2 linked regions of the Homo sapiens genome follow. The protein of the gene in region 2 purifies or fractionates together with the protein of the main gene of each other region. This does not show direct contact. Each region holds a gene or a part of one and is shown on either strand. Other genes may lie near its edges.

Evidence for each region. The genes of interacting proteins can lie anywhere in the genome.
Region 1: the proteins of P2RY8 (region 2) and TAP1 purify together in Homo sapiens (co-immunoprecipitation; 2 studies listed by BioGRID and IntAct, with this or other methods). This does not show direct contact.

The regions. Positions count from the first base shown.
Region 1 is NC_000006.12:32,847,707-32,850,704, reverse strand, and holds part of TAP1 (antigen peptide transporter 1), read left to right. Parts: intron 1-187; coding exon 188-385; intron 386-1,586; coding exon 1,587-1,715; intron 1,716-1,864; coding exon 1,865-2,053; intron 2,054-2,612; coding exon 2,613-2,786; intron 2,787-2,998. UniProt on the Homo sapiens protein: ABC transporter associated with antigen processing. In complex with TAP2 mediates unidirectional translocation of peptide antigens from cytosol to endoplasmic reticulum (ER) for loading onto MHC class I (MHCI) molecules.
Region 2 is NC_000023.11:1,534,386-1,538,525, reverse strand, and holds the start of P2RY8 (S-geranylgeranyl-glutathione receptor P2RY8), read left to right. Parts: upstream 1-1,340; 5' UTR 1,341-1,605; intron 1,606-4,140. UniProt on the Homo sapiens protein: G protein-coupled receptor for S-geranylgeranyl-glutathione (GGG), an endogenous metabolite present in lymphoid tissues.

The DNA of each region.
Region 1 (2,998 bases), on a different chromosome or scaffold from region 2:
ACCCGTTCTGAGTCATTTTCCTCTTCCTCGTATTTCTTTAGCATCCAAGGGGCATAGCTGTGTCTCTTTCTCTTTTCTCCTTTTCCTCTGTCTCTTCTCACCTTTAATTTCCAAATAGGTAACTCAGGTATTAGTGTCCCTGATGGTTTGCCAACCCGTGTGACATCTCTTGTCCATGTATCCACAGTTGCTGGAAGTGCAGGTGCGGGAATCTCTGGCAAAGTCCAGCCAGGTGGCCATTGAGGCTCTGTCGGCCATGCCTACAGTTCGAAGCTTTGCCAACGAGGAGGGCGAAGCCCAGAAGTTTAGGGAAAAGCTGCAAGAAATAAAGACACTCAACCAGAAGGAGGCTGTGGCCTATGCAGTCAACTCCTGGACCACTAGTGTGAGCACCTGAAGATGAATACCCATTCCCTTGTCCTTAAGATGCCGTGACTCCATTCCCATTCCTATGACCCTGCTCCCACTCCTCCTTTACTGGGAAATGGTTGGTTCAGTATTTTCGTCCTAGCAACCTGAGGCTCAATGACTCTACTCAGTGTCCCTAGCCCCCTCCCTCTCTTTAAAGATGCTAGGTGGCTTCCTTTCAGTATGGTACATAAAATCCACCCAACCATGTGGATTGGAGAGATGCGTGTCTTCCAGTCCTAGGGCCTTCCTTTGCCTCTCAGGGGAAGTGCAGGGCGCCATAAATTCTTGCACCTGGGACTGCTTCATGCTGGTACCTTGTAGATTTGTTAGTGAGAGTGATGGGAATAGTGGAAGCCAGGGATGAGGGACATCTGTGATGCACTGGAAAGAGAGCTACGCCAGTGATCCGAAGATCCTGGCTTGATGATGCAATTTACTTGTCTTGTGATCATGACAACAAATTTACCTTCTCTGAGACTGTTTCCTCTTTATTTATTTATTTGTTTGTTTGTTTGTTTATTTTTACTTATTATTATTATTTTTGAGCTGGAGTCTCGCTTTGTCGCCCAGGCTGGAGTGCAGTGGCGCGATCTGGGCTCACTGCAAGCTCCGCCTCCCGGGTTCACGCCGTTCTCCCGCCTCAGCCTCCTGAGTAGCTGGGACTACAGGCACCCGCCACCACGCCCGGCTAATTTTTTTTTTTTTTTTGTATTTTTAGTAGAGACGAGGTTTCTCCGTGTTAGCCAGGATGGTCTCAATCTCCTGACCTTGTGATCCGCCCACTTCGGCCTCCCAAAGTGCTGGAATTGCAGGCATGAGCCACTGCGCCCGACTGGTTGTTTCCTCATTTTTCAAAAATGGAGTGATATAACCTTCTTTATAAGGCTCTTCATGTATTAGCTGACATCACATGAATGAAAGCCTTTTGTGAAGAGTAAAATGCTCCCCAGACAAGGTGATAGTGGTGATGGTGGTGAAGATAACTGTGACTTGCATGATGTGCATTGAGTCAGACTCCATGGGGTCTCTGGTTCATTCTCCTGTCTGCCTATTGAGCCTGCCGATGTCACTTAGGAGACAGGGACTTGATATTTCCTTCAGGTTAATGACTGCGGTTCTTTGTGTCCCCTCCAGATTTCTCTACCTCAGTCCCTTTTTTTGTGGTCTCTTTATAGATTTCAGGTATGCTGCTGAAAGTGGGAATCCTCTACATTGGTGGGCAGCTGGTGACCAGTGGGGCTGTAAGCAGTGGGAACCTTGTCACATTTGTTCTCTACCAGATGCAGTTCACCCAGGCTGTGGAGGTGAGGTCCCTCCACCTTCACTCCCCAGTGTGATTCCTTCCTCTGGCCCAGCACCATCTGTGTGATGTCCTTCCATTCTTTACCCTTCTTGCTTCACATAATGCTGGCAAGCAGACTACCTCACTTTCACTATTCTTACCTCCCTCTAGGTACTGCTCTCCATCTACCCCAGAGTACAGAAGGCTGTGGGCTCCTCAGAGAAAATATTTGAGTACCTGGACCGCACCCCTCGCTGCCCACCCAGTGGTCTGTTGACTCCCTTACACTTGGAGGGCCTTGTCCAGTTCCAAGATGTCTCCTTTGCCTACCCAAACCGCCCAGATGTCTTAGTGCTACAGGTACAACCTACCACTCCCTGTATTCCACTGGCCCCAACTGCAATTCTGCCATCCTAAATTTTCTTCCTGCCTTCAGCCTGCTTACTGCCAAGCATATATCCTCCCTAACCCTTTAAAGGCAATGGTAGGCATCATCTGTTCCATAAATCTTCCCCAAACTCAAGAACCCAGTTTGGGCTTCCAAAGAGAATGAGAGAAGAGGTTTCGAAGAGAGTGCTCTCACGTTCCAAGGAATTGCTGCAGCAAAATCTGTGTCTTCGGTCTTCCATCTTTCCTTTTCCTTTGTAATTTGGAATGTGATTTTTCCCTTTCCTGGTGGTATCTGACATCAAGTGTGTGGCATAGTGGTGCTGGGTCTCTGCCCTTGTCTTTGCCGCTTCTTCTATCTCTACTCCTTGGGGAGGCATCACCCAGAAATCTGTGCATGTGGGAGGGTAGGAGTTTCTATATTTCCCTGTTTTTCTTCTGGGGTAAGACATCATGCTATGTAACAAGGCAATGACACTCTCAAGGTTAGAGGCCTTGGTAGCCTCTTATCGTGTGCTTCTCTGGCCTCTAGGGGCTGACATTCACCCTACGCCCTGGCGAGGTGACGGCGCTGGTGGGACCCAATGGGTCTGGGAAGAGCACAGTGGCTGCCCTGCTGCAGAATCTGTACCAGCCCACCGGGGGACAGCTGCTGTTGGATGGGAAGCCCCTTCCCCAATATGAGCACCGCTACCTGCACAGGCAGGTATGGAAGCAGGTGGCTTGAAGGAGGGCAGGGAGCATCAAATACGAAGAGCATTCTTACTGAGCACTCTGAAAGAGGGGTTAGGGAATGATAAGAGACCTTGGGTGGAGATGGTGGTGTAGTCAGGAGGGAGGTAGTATGATTTTGTGACATGTTCTCAATAAAGATTTTGAGTCTTCGATCTCTAGATAACCATACTCCCATGTGCCTTG
Region 2 (4,140 bases):
CACCTTGGCACCTCAAAGTGCTGGGAATACAGGTGTGAGCCACCAGGCCTCGACTTTTTTTTTTTTTTTGAGACAGTCTCACTCTGTTACCCAGGCTGGAGTGCAATGGCCTGATCTTGGCTCACTGCAACCTCCAGCTCCCGGGTTCAAGTGATTCTCCTGCCTCAGCCTCCCCAGTAGCTAGGATTACAGGCATCCACCACCATGCCCAGCTAATTTTTGTATTTTTAGTAGGGACGGGATTTCGCTATGTTGGCCAGGCTGGTCTCGAACTCCTGACCTCAAGTGATCCACCCGCCTTGGCCTCCCAAAGTGCTGGGATTATAGGCGTGAGCCAGCAGGCCTGGTCTTTTTGTTTGTTTGTTTGTTTTTTGGGACAGTCTCACTGTCACCCAGACTGGAGTGCAATGGCCTGATCTTGGCTCACTGCAACCTCCACCTCCCAGGTTCAAGTGATTCTCCTGCCTCAGCCTCCCCAGTAGCTGGGACTACAGGTGTCCACCACCACACCCAGCTAATTTTTGTGTTTTTAGTAGGGACGGGATTTCGCCATGTTGGCCAGGCTGGTCTCAAACTCCTGACCTGAAGTGATCCACCCGCCTTGGCCTCCCAAAGTGCTGGGACTACAGGCGTGAGCCACCACACCCAGCCTGGCTTGAGGGATTGATTCTACCATGTCTTTTCCCTGAGCAGTGGTTCAATATTCATTCATTCTTTCTCAGTGACAGATCCTTCCCTCTCAACCTCCTCCCACGAGTGACAAGAACCAACCGTTGCTCCTCACAAGCAAGGATACCAGAGCTCGGAAACCTGGTTCTCATTCCTGAAACTGGCCGATCCCCCATGGGATGTTGAGGATATGAGCCTGCAGCGCCCGTGACCAACTGTGAGAGCCGGAATGATCAGTGCCCAAGGTCTGTTCGCTTGTCACAGTCTGGCTGTGTACCAAGAGATGTCGCAATGAGCACAGCTTTAGAGTCTAAAAGGAAACGTGTTCTGTTCTTTCTTTGTTTTGTTTTGTTATTTCAGAAGAAACAGGAATCGGTTCTGGAGCATGCCACGGCTCTTCACTGCTGGTTACAAAATTTAGAAAAATCATTCTCCCTCTTTTCCTCACTCTCAGGGTTCTCTTAAGAGTAGGGCCCCCTGCGAGCCAGTGATAGGGAGGTGGGCGGTTAACGGTGCTGCCCAGAGACACAGCGACGTTACTCCAGTGGGCTCAGCCCTGCACATGAGTGTTCAGACAGTTACAGAGGAAATGTCACAACACACTTCCTTTCCACCTAAGCCTGAGTCGCAACCGTGGTGGTGCGCTGGGAGGTGGAGTTTGCAGAATTTGCATTCGGAGACAGTCGTGCCAGCCGGTGGGCCACCCAGCGAAGCGGCCGCCTTTGCAAGGTTGCTGGACAGATGGAACTGGAAGGGCAGCCGTCTGCCGCCCACGAACACCTTCTCAAGCACTTTGAGTGACCACGGCTTGCAAGCTGGTGGCTGGCCCCCCGAGTCCCGGGCTCTGAGGCACGGCCGTCGACTTAAGCGTTGCATCCTGTTACCTGGAGACCCTCTGAGCTCTCACCTGCTACTTCTGCCGCTGCTTCTGCACAGGTGAGCCGCCGAGCTGGACTTTTATGCTTGTCCTGCACTGTCAAGGGAGAAGACAGGGTCGCTGGGAGGGTCCGTGTACGGTGAGAACATGGGGGAAGACGGTGCAAACTCCATGAGGCGTGTTCTCCTCACGCTAGAGCAGACCAGGAGTGCAAATTTCCTGGGAGGAAGACTTTGCACAGCCGCTTCGTCACTTAGGGGAGAAATGCTCAAATTTTCCAGGGCTGCAAGCCACCCTTCCTTTAATAACTCATTCCATGAACTTTCAGAGGCCGAGGTGGGCGGATCACGAGGTCAGGAGTTCGAGACCATCCTGGCTAACACGGTGAAACCCCGTCTCTACTAAAAATACAAAAATTAGCCAGGCGTGGTGGCAGGTGCCTGTAATCCCAGCACTTTGGGGGACCGAGGTGGGTGGATCATCTGAGGTCAGGAGTTCGAGACCATCCTGGCTAACACGGTGAAACCCCGTCTCTACTAAAAATACAAAAATTAGCTGGGCTTGGTGGTGGGCGCCTGCGGTCCCAGCTACTCGGGAGGCTGAGGCAGGAGAATGGCATGATCCCTGGAGGTGGAGCTTGCAGTGAGCAGAGATCACGCCACTGCACTCCAGCCTGGGCGACAGAGCGAGACTCTGTTTAGAAAAAAAAAAACAAAAAAAAACTCATTCCATGAAATGCGCCTCTCTTGAGGTTAACCTTAGAGAGGGTAAGCAGCTGCGGCTGCTGCACGTAACCCATTTACGCCTGAGATTGCAGTTTTTTCAATGTTTGCAATGAGACCTTGGCGATGACCTTGAGCCGTGGGATATAAATAACTCCCAAATGCTTAGCGTTCCAATAATGGAAGAGTAAGCATAAATTAAACGGGTTTTAAAGCCCTATGGGTGCCTGGATGAGCACGGTGGCCCCTCGTCACCCCCTCGGTGCCAGGGAGACCCCAGACCCGGGTCTCACGGCCACCTCAGACCTCATTTGTACAGGTCCGCTTAGAAACCCCAATTCCTTGGGTCTTGTCAGATCTGTCCCCTAAAAAGCTGAGAAAAGGCAGAGGGAGCTGCTCTGGGAATTTCAGGCCACACACAACAAGGCCTGCTGTGGCGCTTTAGGTCCCATTTCTATAAAGGGGAACCATGGTCACGTGGCTCTGTTCCCAAAAAGAAAAGGGTTTGTGTGTGTGTGTGTGTGTGTGTCTGTGTGTGTGTCTGTGTGTGTGTGTGTGTGTGTGGTTGTTTCTTCCCATGTTGTTATCTTTACGTAACGTGGATGAGAAGTCTGAAGCGCGAGAGCCCTAAGTGAAAACCGCTGAGGAGCTGAAGCCCGTGGGGAAGCAGGTGCACCTGACTGCGCCGTTCAATCTCTCCTTCCCGTTCCGTTCCTCCTTGCATAGCCCACTTGACTTTGGCAAGCAGCGCCAGATAGTAGCATATTTTGTGTTTACGGCGGTGACAGACGCCTGTAATCCCAGCACTTTGGGAGGCCGAGGTGGGTGGATCACTTGAGGTCAGGGGTTTGAGACCAGCCTGGCCAACATAGTGAAACCCCGTCTCTACTAAAAATACCAAAATTAGCCGAGTGTGGCGGCGGGCACCTGTCATCCCAGTTACTCGGCACGCTAAGGCAGCAGAATCACTTGAACCCAGGAGGCGGAGGTTGCGGTGAGCCAAGATCGCGCCACTGCACTCCAGCCTGGGTGACAGAGTGAGACTCTGTCTCAAAAAAAAAAAAAAAAAAAAAGGAATTATCCCACATTGGAAAAGCAGTACTTTCATTTAGGCACTGCCAGACAGGTGCCAGCGTCCTACGTGCACCAGGATGCTGCCCCTTTTCCCAAATATTGGCCTCCCCCACCCCACAAGAGGACAATTAGGTCAGAGGCTGAGAGAGGCGTGCATGGGACGTACGGGACGGTGGGCAACCCTGTGTTTGTAAAAGCACATGCTTTTCAGATGCCTTCTGCCAGGTCCCCGCCTGGCTGCACCATTCAGACTGACCAACCTTGGGGTGGGTGGGAGAGGTGAGGTCCCCTTGGAGAACCACAGAGACGCTCCCTCCCTCCAACCCTACCCACACTGCAGTTCTGAGTTTGTCCCTTAAAGTTCCAGGGAAGAAGCGATGGCTTAGGATTAACAACAGCAGGGTAGCTGTTGCCAGTGGTGCATACGTACAGCCCTGCGCTTGGAGAGGCCCTTTCCCCGGGCAGATGGCCCCCTCTCGTCTGAGTCTCTCTCCTGCGCCCTCTCCTTCAGCCCTGCCTCTCCATCAGGACCTCCTCATTGGCTGTGTCTGGGCATGGTCCCCAACCTCCCTCCCCCAGCCCCTCTTCTGTCCCTAGAGGCAGTGGGGTGGGCGGGGCAGGGTCCAGGGATCCCAGTGTCCACCTGGAACCCTGCTCTTCCTCTCTCGGGTTAGGAGATTCTGCACGGCCCCTGGGAGACACACAACACCCTGCCTACACCTGTTAAGGTACGGAAAGGGCGTGGGCGTGATGGGTGCCCCCAGGATCACCCCCAAGGACCAGACTGAGCTCAGGGGA